Homo sapiens: one gene and its partner. The protein of the gene in region 1 purifies or fractionates together with the protein of each later gene. This does not show direct contact. Each region holds a gene or a part of one and is shown on either strand. Other genes may lie near its edges. The genes, in order: RNASE4 and CD109.

Region 1 (12,698 bases):
GACCGGGATTTGGGGACCTCTGTTCTAGGGAACCCTGAGCCCAGGGAAGGAGTCAACCATAAAATTGTTTACGACAGGCTTCTAGCTAATTAGTCAGCTAATGTGAAGAAAGCAGTTGAAAGCAGTTGTATCCTGAGTTGAAGGGAAGCAGACCTACCTCCCCAAGAAGTAGGTGGTTCTTGTTCGTTTATGAGTAACTCACTGAATTTATGACTGGCTATGATTTCTTGGTAGTCATCACACATACTGAGAAATTCTCACAAAGGGAGAAAAATCTGATCTTCAAATTGTATTGCATTCTTAAGTGTAATACAATTCTTATGACCCCAAATGTAAAAATAAATGGTACATTTTCAAAGACATTAAATTAATTATTAATTTTTTATTTTGTGCTTCTCTTGTGTGTAAGTCAATGAACATTTTCGTATCAAATAGTTCTGTAGCCCTTGCAGGAAGCACCAATGTTGTACAAGTTGTGGGGATATTGCTGTTCACAGAAGGGAGTCTGAGCTTAAAAAAAGGCCATGGGTCCTGGCACTAGGCCTGTGGTGTGGCTAGCCTGTTCTGAGAGCAAGACTGTGGATCTAGAAAGACACAGGACCCCAATGTTCTATGGTTACATGGGAAGACGTGACTGGGTGAGCAAAGTGGGCTCTCTTTCTAATTTGCATTTGGTGTTGATTCCATTACAAATTATAATCTATGAACTTAATGCAAACATTTCCAGCTGCTATTTACTCCATTATTGTGGAATGAAAAAATTCCTTAGCATATTATTTGGTATTCTTCAGCAGTGCATCAAATTTGTCCGCACCGACATTTGTCCATACTTGAGAGAGTTGCTATCTCTAAAAGTCTGAAATTCCATGCTGAAAGTGTGTTCTTGGGAGTTTATCAAGAAAGAGGTACATGATTGTAGAATGGAGAGCCAGCCCTAAAGGAGTAACAAGTATTCACTCATGCAGCTGCTCCAGTATAGCTGCTGGGCTGCCAAGCCACCCACTTGCCACGTTCTTCACATTTACATCATGCTTTTCAGTCTCCTGGGTGTGTTTCCTGTTTCTAGTTTTTTGGAAGATCTTATTAAAGTTTTATTGATTTGTAATCAATTAAGTCTCTTGCTCTGTAATGAACAAATACTGACTTCTAATGTCAAAGGTCTGCCTTACACAGTCAACATTCTTCTGCCTGGTGCCAGAATCCCAGAAATCAGAAATCAGGAAACGGAACCAGAGCTGCTAGTACCTAAAAGAGTCGTTAGGTGGCAGTGGTGGATAGGAATGTTACTAATGTCTTCTCTAGGAAATACCGTACTTGCAGGAGGTGCCAATGCTGTATAACTTGTGGGGATATTGCTGTTCACAGAAGGGAGTATGAGCTGGTGAACCTGTTTAGAATCTCTGTCCAAACTCGCTCTGCATTAGATATTAAGACCAAGGACACCTCATTAGATATAAGTGCCAAAGTAAAAGCCACAAAGTTCAGAATCTACCCATAAGGATATCACAAAATAAAGACCGACCTGTTGTCAGGTTTCACGGGTGCCATTTCCAAACATGCCATTACCCACGTGATCGTGGATGAACAATGAAGTATTTACTTGTTAGTGTTTCTTACTGGTGTATATTCCACAGAACTCATATTATTCACCTTGAATCAACATGCTTGCCTTATTATAACCCTTAATATTTTTTAAGTAATTGACTTCATTTTTCTCTCCAGGCCTAGGTTTGTTCATCAAGAAAATAAAAGAGTTGCTAGCTCTAAAAATCTGAAGTTTCATGGTTCTCATTAAACATAATAGAGGCTTTGCTAGTTTCAATAGCAAAGGTCCAGTGACCCTCAGTTACAGAGACAAATTTTGTATAAGTTTAGTTGGGGGCCTGTAATCTTGATTCCCTAAGACATCCAGGAACCAAATCTCAGCAAGCGTACACCAAAACCACCAATATCTAACATCTGCTCCCTCACTCAAAACTTTCTCAATATATTCAACTCTAAATTCCTCAAAAAGCAAGGTAAAATGGAATTGGGAGAAAACCAGTAAGAGACAGATCGTTTGTGGTGTAAAAGTGAATCTGCCTAAGCCAAGGGTGCAAAGCCTCACATCTGGTGGCAAAAGTCCTATAGATATATCCTTCTGTACCCAAACACGTAACTGTCTGTCAGCTTTTTGTCAGTGGAATTAGTCCCAGCTGTTCTCTGTCCTTTTTTTCTTTTCTTTTCTTTTTTTTTTTTTTTTTTTTTTTTTTTGAGACGGAGTCTCGCTCTGTCGCCCAGGCCGGACTGCGGACTGCAGTGGCGCAATCTCGGCTCACTGCAAGCTCCGCCTCCCGGGTTCACGCCATTCTCCTGCCTCAGCCTCCCGAGTAGCTGGGACTACAGGCGCCCGCCACCGCGCCCGGCTAATTTTTTGTATTTTTAGTAGAGACGGGGTTTCACCTTGTTAGCCAGGATGGTCTCGATCTCCTGACCTCATGATCCACCCGCCTCGGCCTCCCAAAGTGCTGGGATTACAGGCGTGAGCCACCGCGCCCGGCCTGTTTTTTTTTTTTTTTTGAGACAGAGTCTTGTTCTATCGCCCAGGCTAGATCGCAGTGGTGCTATCTTGGCTCACTGCAACCTCCACCTCCCAGGTTCAGGCAATTCTCCTGCCTCAGCCTCCCAAGTAGCTGGGATTACAGGCGGCCACCACCACGCTTGGCTAATTTTGTGTATTTGGTAGAGACGGGGTTTCGCCATGTCGGCCAGGCTGGTCTCGAACTCCTGACCTCAGTTGATCCGGCTACCTCGGCTTCCCAAAGTGCGGGGATTACAGGTGTGAGCCACCACACCTGGCCCCAACTGTTCTTTAGAGTAACTTTATCTTCTGTATCAAATGAATCTGTTAGTATTCACAAGAATTATTCTCTCCCTCTCCCCACAGGCAATGTTCAGTATTCAAAAGATTCATCAAATTTTACACACCAGGGAGTTAACTTGACAGTTTATGATGAGTAACTATAGTTATCATTTTCATCAATGTGGCTTCACACTTTTATACATCCTAGGGCAAAATCCCCCAAAGTAAGAGCCTAACACCCAAGGCATATTCATCCCTTTATTGCTTTTCCTTCCTTCTTCCCTTCAACCTGCCAGTGAGCCTTCTTTTGATCTTGGGATGTGTTCCACTTTGTTTGAAAGAGCATCCAAAACTTTTCTAAGAAGAGAAATTAGCAGGGAAGGTTAGAAGGAAACAATGCTAAAAACATACTGTTTCTTTCCTTGTTAAGCCACGTGTAATGCCTGTAACAGGGGTGGACGACGGGGGAGGACTCCCGATGGCCTTCAGCAAATGGCTCCCCCAGGCCTTTGGGGATTTTATCACAATTTAGAAATCCCTCCTAAACTTCCACTTCCTCCCAGTCTCACTAATTTCTCTTTATCCACACATAGGCCATCCCAAAAGAAACCTGTTTTCATTTTAAACTTTAGAATCTGATCCATTTTCTTTTTAATTCATGAGCTTGAGCCTGGAGGCTTTAAAGGGAGGAAAATGGTTTCATTAAAATGGATGGATGGCTAGAAATAATATATAAAACAAATTGAACAATAGTTTACCCAGGAGGAAGAATCTTACAAAAATCTGGCAGTTTCCCTTCAACGGGAGATGGGTTCCAGCTGTTTGTTCCTGGAGATGGGTTCCAGTTGTGTGAACCTGGAGGCCTCTCCAGGTTCTGATTATATAGTGTTCCTAATATATAGTGTCCCAGTCCTGGCAGGGACATGAAAACCAAGGACACTGCTCTTGAACAAACGAGGAGGGTCATTCACCTTTTCGCTGGGCATGATTGGGTTAGATATTAACCCACCTGAATGGATTAGAGATTTGTTCTGGAAGACAAAGTTTGAGAAACATGGCCTTCTGTCCAAAAGTTGCCCTTTTCTGCTGTCTGTGGTGCTTACTCTTGTTCATGGCAGGACTGAGGTTTCCCTATTCACACATAATAGTCTGGATCCATAAGATAGCATCTCTGATCTCCCTGGGCCAACTCCAAGAACTGCCTTGGAAGATGTCACAGAGTAAGATATGGTCTTCCAGTAGGATGCTTTTCCACTGTACTATTTATCATTTATCATATCACATCCTATTTATCGTATCACATCATTTGGTTTCATGAACGGATGCTAAGCACGTTATTCCATCGATTTCATACAGCCAGGAAAGCACTTCCAGAGAAGGTTGTGTGACAGCTATTAGTACACTGCCCCTCCCCCTACACTCAACTTCTCAGCTTCTAACCCCCAGAAGCAGGCTTGCCATGTTTCCTGGGTTTCTCCTTCTTCCATCTTTACCTGTCCACAAGAGACTAACCCTGAACATTCAATCTTCTGATCCTTGTAATGTAGTTGCAAAATTGCTTATCTCCATCATCAAAGCAGGGCTGTAGATCCATTGCTTGCGTAAAAACAGTGGGCCAAAGGTCACCAGGATCACCTTATAGATCTCATAGTTTCCAATATCAGACAGCAGCAGGGTACCAACTGTTTCACAGACCCCCAGCATTTGCCCACAGTGGTGTTGGATCTAGGACAGTGTTATCTTTTTAAAAATCCTCAATCCTCTGTTGTCACCCACCTAGCTGCCAAGTATTCAGTCTGGCTGCACTTGAGAAGGTGTCAAGAAAAGACAGGCTGCCTGCTAGTAAAACAAATGCACTTGAAATCACAATAATTATAATATTCAGTGCAATCTTTCATTTTGTGAAGCTCTCACATACATGACTACATTCAACCAACACCAGGACTGTGTGAGGTAGGCATTATGTAAATATGCTCTGCTCATGAGGAAACTCCAAGAACAAACAGCAGATGAATGGTGGAGTCAGACTTTGAACCCTTCATAAGCAAGGAGAAAACTGACCTGTCTTTCCAGGCTTAGCTCAAGCAACACCACCTCTGAGTCCCGAAAAGCGGTACCCTGCCACAGCATACAACCCATATGCGCCTGCACACACACAGCCCCATGGCCTGAAGCACCAATTCAAGCACCGACTCACACAAACAGAGCAGCCTCTGATTTTAGAGTTCTGCAGTAGTGCTGAGGTGGGGCAACCAGCAGCCTCTGAATATAGTTAGGTCCCTTCTCTGCCTCTGGGCCTTCACTGGACAACCTTTGGAGGATACACAATCTGCCCACAATGCAAAAAGACAGTTTTATGTTTTTCTTTTAAACTTGGCACAAGGAAGTTTTGTTGAAATGAAAAGTAGGGTTTGGGGGAAAAATTACTATTTCATTAGAATGCATCTAAGCACTTAGTCATTTGTGTTTAAAATACAACAAGGAATTATATTCTATGATTAAGGAACATCACATCTTTGTCAGTAATTTTAATACAAATGAAGGAATCGCCAATTGCAAAAAACCTCATATATTTTTTAAATGTTCAGACAGCTTTAACTTGAAAGTCATTCCCCTTTCCTGGAGATTTTTTTCTCTCTCTCCCTCAAGCCAATAATGTCCCTGCACACAGACACGGGATGCACGGGTCCTGTTTCCAAGGACCCTAGTGTTAGAGCACTTTCCTCCTTCATACAGAGTATATATGTATCATTCTGTCTTAGGACTAATTATAAAATTAGATGATGGGAAGAATGGACTAAATAATTTCTATATTTCTTTATTATTCTAACACTTTAGGTCTATAAGCATGAACTTATTCAATAACGGAAGTAACAGGTAAAGAAGGAAAAGCACACGTGGCAAGAAGAACCACGTCTCCAGGAAGAGGCAACACTACTGATTGAAGGACAGTGGGGACAAAGTCCTGCTGACATGCCTGTATTTCCAAACAAAGACAAAAATTAAACATTTGCTTTTCAACCAACTCTGGGCTTTGTGCCCACTCACTCTTTGTTCCCATTCCCTCTTTCCCAAGTATTTCATGGCATTCTTCCGGGAATAACTGTTTACAGAGAATTACAGAGAATCTGCTTAAATACAGATTCAATAAAAACTCCTAAAGAAAGGTTTCACTGACCTTCATTGGTCCACTTTTTTATCCAGCTACTTTAATTTGAGTCACAGTGACCAATGCTTCCAACAATAACTTGACAAACCTCTTACTCTTGCCTGCTTATAACCTGATTATCTGTTTTCAACAATAGCTAAAGCCATTCCTCTTTTCCTGGAATGATTTTTTCCATCCTCTCTGCCAAACGATAGTTCATCTCCACATTACTAGAGTGCCTCATGTCCTGTTACTAACATCGTACCACTCCATGGAGTCATAGAACAAGAGTGGGAGGGGCCTCTGAGACTCTGTCCACCCCTCATATTAAAGAAGAGCCAACTGAGGAACAGAGAAAGAGACATGTATTGCCCAAGGAACTCATTGCATTCGCCGGCCTGGAAGCTTTCCAATGCACCACACAATTTTTTTTTTTTTTTTTTTTAAGACGGAGTCTTGCTCTGTCACCCAGGCTAGAGTGCAGTGACGCAATCTCTGTTCACTGTAACCTCCGCCTCCCAGGTTCAAGAGAGTCTCCTGTCTCAGCCTCCCGAGTAGCTGGGGTTACAGGTGCTCACCACCGTGCCCGGCTAATTTTTGTATTTTTAGTAGAGACGAGGTTTCACCATCTTGGCCAGGCTGGTCTCGAACTCCTGATCTTGTGATGCACCCACCTCGGCCTCCCAAAGTGCTGGGATTACAGGCATGAGCCACCGTGCCGGGCCCACACAACTTTTATATTCCATACTAGTACTTTCTAGACAATCAGAGCTAACTTTAAAGGGGCCACTGAAAGTTGCTGTTCGAAGGAAACCTACATTGACTATTACCATAAATTCAAAAATTATTTTACTCTGCTTGTCATCAGTAAAAGAATTGCTTGAATTGAAGCGTATGTAATAAACCTATCCTCTTGCAAAACTTGTTAGTGGCTCTGTGGTTAAGTAAGTCTTGAATACCTGAGGCTGCTTCTGGGAAGGTGGTCCTGTGCCACAGATAATGATGTCCCTTGGGTTTCTACTGATTACATTATGACTTGATTATAAGATTTTTACTGTCACGAGGGAGGGTCTTGGCTCATCTGAGATTTCCCTAGCCCCCTGAGTGGTGCTGAAATTGTTTTAATAAAGATGTTGCGCTTTACTCATGTGCTGCTATTAGCATTTGACGTGCTGTCTCAGAGCGAGAAAACGGAGGATCCCAACCTTCCAGTAGGAAGGCTTAGAGAAGAGGCTGTTGGCAAGTGTCTCTAAGAATTGCACAACACTGGCTGAGGGTGGGTTAAGGGTGAGGAGGCAGAGGAGAGTAAACAGAAAACACCGATCCCCAAATGTTAGTTACGCTTGCAAAAAACTAAGGCCTGCTTCAAAAAGCTGGTGATTAGCCTGAATAACTAGCAAAGCTTTCTTAGTTGTGGGCAAGTGCAGGCCTCCTAGGGCTTCCCTTAGGTTCGGCGATTCTGTGGTCCCCCTCCAAGCCTACTAATCAATAGAAGCTGGCATCTGTGCCCAGCTGCGCAAAGTAAACCTGAGTGGGAATGTAAAGTCGTTAACTCATACAAATACGGGACTTTCACGTCCCTCCCCATTCCTCCCTCTCCAGCCCCGTCCCGCAAACTCCTCCCCAAGGAGTCCCAAGCTGCCTCTACTAGGAAAGGACTCCCCGGCCTAAACGCCCCTTATGAAGCTACCAGAGAGGAGGAGGAGGAGCAGGAGTGTGAACCTACCTCGGCCTCAGAACAAGTCCGCAGAAACGGGCAGGACAATGGAAAGAAGTTTTGTTTCTCACCCGCTTCTTCCTCCCTAGTACGATGATGGGGAGCCGGTAGAAAACGCAAAGATGTTCTTTTGAATCCTGCTTTGCATCTAGGTGGGGTTGGCGTCCTTGTGTGAGTGTGTGTACACGGACGGAGATGGGGGCGTGGTGAGGTGTGGAGGGTCGGCGTGCCAGCCTCTGCGTAGTTGGGACCGCGCCCCGCTTCTCCGAGGAGGCCCCTCCCGCCTGGATCCGCCCTTGGAGCTGGCGCCGCAGCAGCACCCGCCCCAGGGGCCGCAGGGGCAGCCCAGGCAAAGAACGAGCCTGGGATCCGCGCTCCTTCCTCAGCTGGACCCCAACGGGCAGCAGCCGCGAGAGCACTGCCTCCACGGAGAGCAGATGGCGGGAAACTGGCTTCTGCTCCCAATTGCCAGGCGGCCCTTCAGAGACTACCCCTGGCTGAGCGTCCAGGAACCCATGAAACTTGGTCTTGACACTGGTCGACAGCACCATCTGCCACGTACTTATTCGCTGCTGCTTTCTTTGGCAGGACAGCCCATCGCGAGACAGTTTGTGTTTCAAATTTAACGGAGACTTTTTTTCAGTAGTTGACAAAAGGGGGTGGAAAAACAGTAGCCACGAGGGCTCGTCCGGGATTTGAACCCGGGACCTCTCGCACCCAAAGCGAGAATCATACCCCTAGACCAACGAGCCACTGTAGCTGAGTGGTGCTTCCTATCACTCTGAATTTCTCTTTTCCGCCTGCTGTTCTGAAGGTTTTTTGTTTTGTTTCTTTTCCTCTGTTGTGACATTTCCCTTAGGCCTTATTTAGTTATTCCTTCCATCTTCACCAAGTTTCAAGTGTGGCTTATTCTCTGGCTTATTCTCCTCGATCCAGATGCAGGATGGGGTGAAGGAAGGCAGCTTTTTAGACTTTAGGTCACATGCTTGTGTCTCACTGAGCCCGGGGAGCGATTTAAGCCCGCTAGGGCCTGGAGGGAACCTGGAGGGGGCTGAAATAGAGATCGAGGGCCAGAGCTGAGCTCGGTTGCAAGGCTGTAGGGTACTGAGCCCCAGGACAGACGCGCGATACGTATATATCTGCCGGCCTTTGGACTTAACGTAGAAGCCAAAATATAACACACTTCGGTAAGACAACAGTGCCTTCCCCCAACGGTGGGACGATTCGGGTCTACTATCTTTCAGAAAGGTAACCAACTTTTCAAGACGCGATTAACGCAGCCCACCTCGCGGCTAAGCTGTTTCCTTCGGACAAGGGTGAGAGACAGAAACAGATTTGATCACGTCAAGATACAGAGATTTTTTGCACAAACGAAGAGCAACCGTAAACCCCAAAACAGCAGCGTCTCCTTCGAGCCGGAATCGAACCAGCGACCTAAGGATGACCACACATTAAGTACTACAGTCCTCCGCTCTACCAGCTGAGCTATCGAAGGAAGCACGGAAACAACTCTCCTAAAAATCCCTACTCGAGACATCCTTAACCAGAGACGGGAAAGAAAGAAATCTCTTTATACCCGGAAAGTAATTACTGCAGAGTCACAAAGCCAGCTTGTAAGACAGTCCTGCGTCCGAGGTTCTGAGGACAACCTTTCTAAATCTGGATTCCCCTGCCTCACTGAGGGGCTCCCAAGCAGAGCAGGCGCCCCTGAAACTCGGGCATACCGAGGCTGCTCATCCTCTGGGCGCCCGAGGGCTGTTGGCCTCACTGGGCGCGGACCCAGGGGCCTCGCGAGCGTGGATGCGTGTGTTTGTGTGTAGGGTGGGGACCGGCACCTGGGCGTCGGAGAACTGGGGGCTGAGGCGGTGGGACGCACACAATTCTGACTGCGCAACTGTGAACGCCGGAGAGGGCGGGCCTCCAGGCTTAGGCCCGGGCTCCCTGATGTCCTCACTTCCTGCGCTTCCCTCCCAATCTCGGCTCTTCCGCTTACACGTCCACAGACACGGGAGGGAGAGGGTGTGGAATGGAGCAGTGGTCCCCAACATTTTTGGCACTAGGGACCGGTTTCGTGGAAGACAGTTTTTCCACGGACCGCGGGGGCGGGGGGAAGAGTTGGGGGATGGTTTCGGGATGAAACTGTTCCACCTCAGATCATCAGGCATCACTTAGATTCTCATAAGGAGTGCAGTTTAGATCCCTGGCATGCGCAGTTCCCAATAGGGTTCGCGCTCCTGTGAGATTCTAATGCCACCACTGATCTCACAGGAGGCGGAGCTCAGGCGGTACTGGTAGCTAGCCCGGAGTTCACCTCCTGCTGTACAGCCGGGTCCCTAACAGGCCATGGACAGGTGCGCGGCCCAAGGGTTGGGAACCCCTGAAATAGAGGACATCTGGGCAAACCCAATGTTTCTGTGTGAATTCGCTTTTGGAGATAATATTTGCAGCTCATTCAAAAGGAAGGCCACATTTCTCTGCGTTAAAATCAAATTTAGTGACCCAAGTCTCGCCCCTAAAGTCGGGCCCTTAATTTCCCAAAACCCCACTGGCACATGAAACCTTGCCTCACAACGTGCATCTCTCTTCTGGACGCCTGGCCGGAGCGGCCATTGCTGGCTCTTCCCGTTTCAGAAGTGGAACCTTGATCTCTACTCCAAATATGCCCAGACCCGGGGCTTGAGAATAGCTTAAAGGGCTATTGTCTCGCCTAGCTGTCCCCATTTCCCGCCCGGCAGTCAGCAGGGCTCTCGCCGCCAGTCCGCAAGCCAGGGCGTGGGCAGAGGCTGACGGTGATTTCCACCGCCTGTGTAATGGATTCCGCCGCATTCCAGGAGCTAAAGCAGCATTACTACTGGAACCTAAAGGAAACGTTCTGCTGAGCTAGTGTTTGGAAGCTCTGAACAGAGGAAAGAAGCTCTAATTTGCCACATTTTCTGTGACTTAGTTCAGAAAGACTAGAAGGGGAGTTTTTCAAAAAACACCTGAATCAAGAAAGTAGTTTCGCAAGGCCCCAGCGAGATTTGAACTCGCGACCCCTGGTTTACAAGACCAGTGCTCTAACCCCTGAGCTATAGGGCCTCACGCAGAAACCGCCTCTTCCTTTCACAGAAAAGGAAAAGATTTGCAGGGCTTCTGCCAGCATCTGAGCATAGAAACTAAGTAAAACCTGGATGTCCTTTCAATCCATTTCCCGACTACTAGAATTCGGTTCACAGACTCAGTGTTCTTGCTGGGGATGGTACAAAGTGAAGGCCAGTGAGAGGGACCACTACTATCCTAAGATTGGAGAAATCTGCCCAACGCGACACAGTCTAACACAGAAAGATTCTCCACTCCCTCACTTCAGACTGAAAATTAAGAAGGGAAAACCGGCAGAGGAAGGAGCTCACCACAGGTCTCACTTGAAACTGCTGACATCCGCATTTTGTTTCCTGCTTGACTCAGGACTTCGTACCAGCAACTGTCTGCCTCCAGAGACCTTTCTCACAGCTGCGAGTCTCAGTGCCAGAGCAGGCATTCGTTAATTTGCAGTTTAATTCATTCCTTCATTCAACAAACACTGCATTCCAGTTCTGTACTAGGCTCTGCACTAAGAATTAGGGATCCAGATATGATCTTTATCCTGAAGTCACTGTCACAGTTTTGTGGAACAAAAGAACTTTAGTTTTCATGAAGGAAAACAATGAAAAGTAGCTGTGCCAGGTGTGAAGGGGCGTTGGCCATGCCAAGGTCCACACATTTACAAAGTGAACCATCCGGGGGTGTCTTCAAGAGGGCATTGGCCTGAGCTGCACTATGAAGGGAGGTTAAGACTTAGACAAAAATGGGAGCAGGGTGGTCCCTGGTAGAATAAAATTACGAGCAAAGTCCGAGAGAAAGACTGAGACATTCAAGGGAACACTGGCTGGGGCAGCAGGTGAGAAGATTAGTAGAAGAAAATAGAAATTCACCAAACATTGATGAGTTTGCGGAATTAATTGAAGGGACGAGCAACCAGAGTCAGAAACACCAGTGACTGGCCATGGTGAAGATGCTCAAACATAAAGCTGCAAAAAGGTAATCGTTATGGGACTGGAAAGGAAGGGATGAGTGAGAGCGTTACAGGGCAGGGCGATTCTGCTGAACCTAGGTATGAAGTGAAATCAAGAGGAAAGAGAGGGGACTCTCAAAGGTGTCTTGAAGAGGCAAGATAACACCTGCAGAAAAAAGGAAGCCTACTTCTTCAGCGTATCTGGAGAGGGCGGAGGGGTGACGCTAGGATTTAGGTAAGCTGAATATGAAGTGAAGGTGGAGCAGTTCATGGGAATTGCATGATAGCCAGAATAGTCTCGTGTCTAGAGTTTCATGAATTGATAAATGAATTAATCAAATTACATAAGTCATCCATTGAGTTAGAGACTCTACGAGTTATGCACTCTTGAAGGAAAAGAATACAGAGAAAACAGCTGAGACTAGAACATAAGTTTTGAATAGCCCTGTTATAGGCATATGTTATGTTAGTGTGTGTCCAACATCTTTTAAAAATTCTCCTTACATGTGGATATTTCACATATTATAAGTAAGTCTGTCCTAGAACACTTGCTTTCCCAGCTTACAGCTGAGAATGGGCATGTGACCTGGGCTCCACCAATCAGATGCATCGCCCAGGAAGCTTTCCATTTAGAAACATAAAACAGGAGTACAGGATACCATAAGGAAAACCCATGTTTTTCCAAATATGGTATCAGTGTCAAGTTTTTGGGTATGGGTTTTCTTAAATCCATATACTGCTGTCTTTCTTTAGTTCTGGAAAACTCTCAGTCATTGTGTTAGTTTGCTAGGGCTTCCATAATAAAATACCACAGACTGGGTGACTTAAACAACTGAAATTCATTTTCTCACAGTCCTGGAGGTCAAAAATCCAAGACCAAGGTGTTGGCAGGTTTGGTTCCTTCTGAGGCCTCTCTCCTTCACTTAGAGATGGCTGGCCTCTTGCTGCCGCCTCACATAGC
Region 2 (7,665 bases), on another chromosome or scaffold:
TGTGCAATTTACAAGTCGGTAAATAAGTTTTCCTAAAACTGTATTTCAATTTTATTCTTCATCTCAATTTCATACCTCAAAATATTTCTTTCCTTAATGATTCTCTTCTATTTCTTTCTTTCTTCAAAGAAGAAAGTATGAGGGTTTTTTAAGGATAATCCACTTGCCTCTGCCCCAATACTGATCTCACCACTTCTAACCCAGGAATTATCCACCCTCTCCTTTGCCTTAACCACTTTCACCTTTCTAATGTGCCTTTTGAGAGACCGTCCACCTCTCTCCTTTCAACTACCAAACTTCTGGAAAGAATAAATTTTGATTATATTTTTCACCATCCATTTATTCCCTCAAATTTGCTTTTGCTTCCAACATTCAACTTAAAGCCATTTACTTAAGCGTCACCAATGTTCTTTCCTCTGTCCTCCTCTTCTCTGACCTGAGAGAATTGATTATTAACTATTAAACCTTCCTTCTTGGAACTTCTTCTTCCCTTGGCTTCTGAGACATTTTCAATTTACCCTTCTCTGATTGCTCGTTGTCTATTCTATTCTTTTCTTTTCTTTTCTTTTCTTTTCTTTTTCTTGAGACAGGGCCATGCTTTGTTACCCAGGCTAGAGTACAACGGCACTATAACTGTAGCTCAAGAAATCCTCCTGCCTGAGCCTCCTGAGTAGCTGGGACTACAAGCACATGTCACCACGTCCAGCTACCTTTTTTTTATTTTTAGTAGAGATGAGGTTCCAATATGTTGTCCAGGCTGATTTCAAACTCTTGAGCTCAAGCGATCTGCTCACCTCAGCCTCCCAAGTTGCTGGGATTACAGGCATGAGCCACTGTGTCTGGTCTTTTTCCCTTCATTAACTTATTTTCCTCTTTCCAAGCTTCTCTCAAAAGACTTGTTCTTTCCATGAGCTCTGTCTCTCTTGTGCATCTTATGTATTTCCAGGACTTCAAAATATTGTCTGCCTCTATGAAAATAATGCCTAAATCTCTCTCCCCAGCTGCAATTTCAAAACTATCTGCTGGACATCTCCACCTGGATGTCTCCCCAAACTCATATCCAAAGCAGAATGAAACATCTTTTTAGAAAATATATACACAAACCCCTATCTCCTTTTCATAACTGCCACACCAGCCAGCAGCTCTTTCCTCCGGCACACCCTTCCCGTCTCTAGTACGTGAAGTAACTGTTCCCTCCAAAGGCCAAATATGTCAGCAGAGGTGGGACATTTATGAATGGACATCTGTATAGCTCTGGAAGTAAAAGATAATAGTACCAGGCACAGGCTCACATACAAGAAGCACTATTTACAAACCGCATTGTATTTTTTATACAAAAAATAAAAACTCCTCTAGCCTTCTGCACTTTTAATATTATATTATCCTTCTGGGACCTCTGAATGTCCTCCAGTGCCTTCCTTTCTCTTATTCCCCACTCCCCATTCATTCATGTTTCACATACAGCAAATAATCAATAAATAATACATTAATGAGAAGAAATGTCTGTGGGGAAACAACTAGTTTCAGCATTATAAAGCCCTCTTCACAGGACATAAAGGATCAACAGTAACCCAGCCCAAATTCTTATGGGATCTGTTTTCTATTTCCACCACAATCCTTCAGTGAGTCACTAGGACAGTGACTCATCCAGTGCTAGAAGAGGAGCAGCACATGTTTAACTTGGAGTTTAAAGAATCAGTGTGTTCACTTTTAACTTCACCCAATCGTTGATTCACAATCAAACCCCAAGTCATGTTTCTCTGCGGCTGAAAATGAACACCAGCGCTTAGGGTTGAGGGTTGCTTAAAAGCAAACATGAAAGTCCACGAGGAGCCTTCCCTCCGCCGCCATGAATCATCACAGGCTTGCAGGGGCATGCTACTCACCCTCGAGCTTTCCAGTATTTGGTCGAGTACAATTTGTGAGATACCAAAGGGCAGTTGTTCTCATTCTAATGTGACTAAGAATCACCTGTGGTCATGGTGGAACATAAAGGTTAGATTCTCTTTTTTTTTTTTTTTTTGAGATGGAGTCTTGCTCTGTCACCCAGGCTGGAGTGCACTGGTACAATCTCACTGCAGCCTCTGCCTCCTGGGTTCAAGCGATTCTCCTGCCTCAGCCTCCCAAGTAACTGGGACTATAGGCGCCCACCACCACACCTGGCTAATTTTTGTGTTTTTGGTAGAGACGGGGTTTCACCATGTTGGCCAGGCTGGTCTCGAACTTCTGGCCTCAAGTGATCCACCTACCTTGGCTTCCCAAAGTGCTGGGATTATAGGCGTGAGCCACCACACCCAGCTGAGATTCTTGATTCTTACCCATGTCTTGAGGGAGGCCATGAATCAGCCTTTTTAATAAATACAATTTGGACTCTGAGAAACAAAGCAACAGAATTTAGTTTTTAAAAGGTCTATGAAGCTTCTAACCCAGCCCCCACCCCTTATACAGAACAAATAGTGCATAAAGAGCAACTCCACCTTGAGCTAAAATAAGAAACTTTCACAGTATGCAAGTAAGCATTTTTAAACTCCTTAGTTAGCCTTATTTTCTTCCATATCAGAAGAATCAGCATTTGTAAATATATCTTAGGTCTTAAGCTCAGCTCTCCATATGTTAGGAAACTTTCGTAGAGTATACTGGAAATAGCACTGGACTGCAAATTTGGGAAACTGCAATCTGTTTCCAGCTCTGCCACCAATAAGTGATTTGACCTTGGGAAAATCCCCAGATCCCATGCCTCACCTCAGTCTCCCAGCCATATATTAGGCTATTGAATTTGCTTATCTTTGAGGTCCCCTCCAGCTCCAAAACTCTATGAGGCTGAAAGTAAATTAAGAGGAGAGCTGGCATTTCATTTTGTAATTCTTTCGATTCAAATTAGATTTCATTAGATCCAGGTCTATCTACTGCAAGCAAATGTGAAAATGATTTTAGTGGAAGACAACTGCAACATTGCATCAATATCCCAAAATCAAGGAAATAAAAATACTTCACTCTCTTCCCAGCAATAGAAAACCTTATGGTCTCTGGACCTCAGATACAACTAACTTCAAATTCAGGCTTCACCATTTACTAACTGGGTTAACTCAGAAAAACTAATTCTTCTCTCTTTGCCTCAATTTCCTCACCTCCAAAATGAAGACAAGAGTATCTACTTCATCAAGTTGTTAAAATTAAATATAGTGCATAAAGTCCTTGGCACTATGAGGAAACTGGATATTTAATATGTTAAATCCCTTCCAATCCCCTCCTAGGGATGTGTCTTTTATAGAGTTCCCGGTTCAAGATTGTCACAATAGGTGATTAATAATTGCCTTTGACATAAACTGTTGCTACTCTCTTCTAGTAACAATAGCTACCATTTTCTTGAATAATTCCTTTGTGTTAAGTGCCTTGAATATGTTACCTCATTTAATCCTCACAATATCCATATAATTGTATAAGGCAGAAACCACTATTTTTCAGATGATGAAACTGAAGCCTAGTGAGATCATGACTGCCCACAGCCACACAACCACTAAGTGGAATGGCCAGCACCTGTGCCCAGGTAGCCAGGCTCCAGAGCCCAGGCACATCGTGATTATGCTGTGGTCCTTTATTCTCAGGTACCACCTACCTGTTAATATACATCACACACAAGAACAAAGACGATGTGTGAATGAAAAGCCTACACCCTTTAAAAATAATTCTAACATAACTGCAGGTTCAGACTGAGTTATGTTGGCAAAGCTGCCTGTGAAAACCTGCTCTGGGAGATCTGCCCACACACTACACTAATTAATCTACTTTCATAAAGACCATGGGACTGATTTTTATCTACGAGGCATGAAATGCATGTTCAGGAGCTTTGTTTCCACCAGAAAACCATCCAAACCAAATTGGATGATTTTTTAAGTTTTTCAGCTAATATCTCAATTTTTAAAAATTTCCCACCCTTACTGAGCCAAGATGGAAAATAAAATATATCATAGTCAATGTGAGAAAGACAACAAAGGAAAAAATAGATTTTTTAAAAAATCTTTAAAAAAAGGTTAACACTCCATTAACTCTCCAGGATTTTAGGGCAAAAAGAAAAAGCGAGTTACAGACACATTTATAGAGCACATTCCACCCCAGTAACTCAATGGGAAGATGGAAGTAGGATTGGCAGCATTTAAAAAATGGTGCCCCCAAACCAGCAGGCACTCACCTGGAGACGCCCATGCAGAGTTCCCAAAATTTCAGTAGGCATTTTCAGTTTAGGTTTTTGGGAGTTTTTGGTTTTAAGGGTTCTTTTGTTTTTGTTTTTGAGATAGAATTTCACTGTGTTGTCCAGGCTGGTCTCAAACTCCTGGGCTCAAGCAATCCTCCCACCTCAGCCTCCCAAGCTCTGGGATTACGGTTGTGAGCCACTGCACTCAGCCTCTAGCATTTTTTCTTAAATCAGGTTTACATGAAACTAATGATGATGAATTCATTAATGAGGGAGAAAGGTTATATTCTTTATTACTTGAAGTGACTCTTGTTCAGGAAAACTACTGAAAGTTTACAAATGAAAATGTCAAATTGTAGCAAGAGAAGGGAAAATAAAACAGAAATTATGGTTTCAAGGACATCACGAAAATTAAATTATTTTATATGCCTTAACAGATGAGAGGACAGTTCTCAAAATGTTCTTAATTTCTTTTTTCTTGATTTGGCAAGGAACTCCTTTCACAGTAAGGAAAGAGAAAAAAAATATGGGAAGAGACAAAGGGACAGACTCACTCTCCACCCAAAACAGTAATCTGACTTGATTTTAAATGCCAATAGCTGTGCCATCTTCTTTCCTCTGGTAATTATTACCTGCTGAACTTTTACTACGTTTTGCCAGTTATGTTTATTTAACTAACTCTTTATGCAAAGGAAGATAAGATTAGGAACATAGTTCTAATCACTATGGAGCTGATGGCAATGATGCTGATAGTGGTAGAGGCAGTGACAGTGGTAACAGTGACAAGCAATCTTTTGAATCTCACTACTAGAAAGGCATTGATACACCTTCCCAGAACTCTGCAAAGTGTAGCAGAAATACTTTTTCTAAAGGTCTATTATTCACCAAAAAAAAAAAAAAAGCCCATAATCGCTGGGCACGGTGGCTCACGCCTATAATCCTAGCACTTTGGGAGGCCGAGGCAGGCAGGTCACGAGGTCAGGAGTTCAAGACCAACCTGGCTAACACAGTGAAACCTCGTCTCTACTAAAAATACAAAAAATTAGCCAGGCATGGTGGCACATGCCTGTAGTCCCAGTTACTCGGAAGGCTGAGGCAGGAGAATCGCTTGAACCAGGGAGGCAGAGGTTGCAGTGAGCCGAGATCGCACCACTGCACTCCAGCCTGGGTGACAGAGTGAGACTGTGTCTCAAAAAAAAAAAAAAAAAAAAAAAAAAAAACTACAATCAATCCCCAATAAATGTAGAATTAATGTATTTTTAAATGAATAACAGTAATATAACCTACACTCCTGGCCATAAAAGTGGAAATGTAAATAAAATCTCCCCCATATCTGTCAAACAAACAAATGAACTCTTCCCTGAAGAAATGCCATACTTTTTCACCTTTATTAAATACATTCTCCATTTGAACAATTTAGTTATTACTATTTCCAACACAAATTGAGCCAGAAATCTATTGTGGTTTGGGTAAAACACCTCCCTATCCTGAGGATTTCTAAGAAATCCAAAACTGCTGGAAATAAGCTACTAAGACACAGTCTACTGCCTTACCCAACTTTACTAGAAGATAAATCTTTATTAAAACCAACCTTCTGTTGGGGGGCTGGGGGTGGCTCATAGGAAAATGAAACAATCAGGCTCATACCCATAATCCCAGCACTTCGGGAGGCTGAGGCAGGAAGATCGCTTGAGCCCAGGAGTTCAAGACCAGTCTGGGCAACATAGCAAGACCCCATCTCTACAAAAAAAAAAAAAATTTTAAACCTAGCATGCTGGCACTTGCCTGTAGTCCCAGCTGATTCAGGAGGCTGAGACAGCAGGATCACTTGAGCCCAAGAATTCCAAGTTGCAGTGAGCTATGATTTCACCACTGCACTCTGGCCTGGGCAACAGAGTGAGACTCTGTCCCTTAAAAATAAAAGGTATTTATTTGTTGGTGTTTGGTGTTTATGTGATGGAGAAAAAACAAAACATGAATCCACATCCAGATACTTGAAGATCCAGACCCCTGATTTAGAAGTCCTGGTTTATCTACATATTGTTACAACTGGAGAAGCCAGATAAAGCAAAGGATGTGAAGACAAGCAGGGAGAAGTGTCTTGATCCTCAAGTCCTCACATTACAGGAAGCATCTGCTCTGAGAACAATAACTCCCAGCCTCTGATAATACAGTAACATTCTCCTTTGAAACAGGAGAGTGCTCCTAGCAATGGCATTTTCAATGAAACTCTATGTCAATAGAGTCAAAAACAGCCCATGAAAGAAGCAGCGTTTTCCCTCCTTCCTTCCCACAGATCCATTCTGCTCCCAGGACAGCTTTGCCCGCCCCAGTCTTGAGTACTTGAACTTTCCTATGGGCATACAAGGAACCCTTCTCCCAAAAGAAGATCTAAGAATAAAGCTGAAAACCAAGCCACAACAACATGCACCCCAATGTAGGTACTATTTGTTGCAAAAAAAAAGAGAGACTGATAACAGAGATCACAGAAAAGACCTAACAGGTGAAATTCTAGAATTAGAGTATGTAAATGTCCAAGCAAAGCTCAAATATTTATCAAAAACATCCATATATATTCTGGATCTCTGCATTGCAGGAAAACTGCCACACTAGTGGAGCCAATATTATAAATTCTTTTTTTTTTAACTTTTATTTTAGTTTCAGGGATACACGTGCAGGTTTGTTATATAGGTAAAATGCCTGTCATAGGGCTTTAGTGTACATGTTATTTCATCATCCAGGTGATAAGTGTGGTACCCAATAGGTGGTTTTTTAATACCCTCCCTCTTCCCACTCATAAATTCTTAATGAATAAATAATGAATGTGGAACTACCTTAAGTATTATGTCCTGTGATTTAATATTTCAATATTTTCTTTAGCGACTATCATAAGATCAGGGGTCATTCATTTTCAGAAATGATAGTCCAATAACGAAAGTTGAAGTCTGCCCCCATGTAAAAAGGAAATGGACTTTCTGCATCCTCTTCTGCAGTATTATTACACTAATAATATTAGCAATTGTTGTTTATTGCATGCCTAAGAGGTACTATATACAGATTTTAACTTTATAACTGCCCTGGGAAATCAGTTTCATTATTTCCATTTTATAGACAAGGAAACTGTGGCTCAAAGCAGTTAAGTAACCTACCTAAGATCATACAACTAGTAGCAAAGTAGTACCAGGATTCAAACTCAGATCTTAAGGGCTAACCTATACTTCCCCTCCAGGGAAATAAGACCTCCCACTTCCCTGACATTGCTTCTATGAGGGACAAAAGTGACTTGCCCCTACACACACCATCTCTTCCTGACTCCTATTCCAAATATACCTACCCAGTGAACTTCCAGTGGGGAAAGAACCACAGATGCAGATAAACTTTTACTTTTATTTCATTTCATGATGGTGTTCATTTCTCTACGCTTGTAGAGAATAAACACTTATGTAATGAATACCAACCACCCTTCATTACGT

What was found.
Region 2: the proteins of RNASE4 (region 1) and CD109 purify together in Homo sapiens (co-immunoprecipitation; 2 studies listed by BioGRID and IntAct, with this or other methods). This does not show direct contact.

What each region holds. Positions count from the first base shown.
Region 1 is NC_000014.9:20,679,777-20,692,474, reverse strand, and holds the start of RNASE4 (ribonuclease 4 precursor), read right to left. Parts: upstream 7,916-12,698; 5' UTR 7,717-7,915; intron 3,712-7,716; exon of another isoform or gene 3,601-3,711; intron 1-3,600.
Region 2 is NC_000006.12:73,698,538-73,706,202, reverse strand, and holds part of CD109 (CD109 antigen isoform 1 preproprotein), read right to left. Parts: intron 1-7,665. UniProt on the Homo sapiens protein: Modulates negatively TGFB1 signaling in keratinocytes.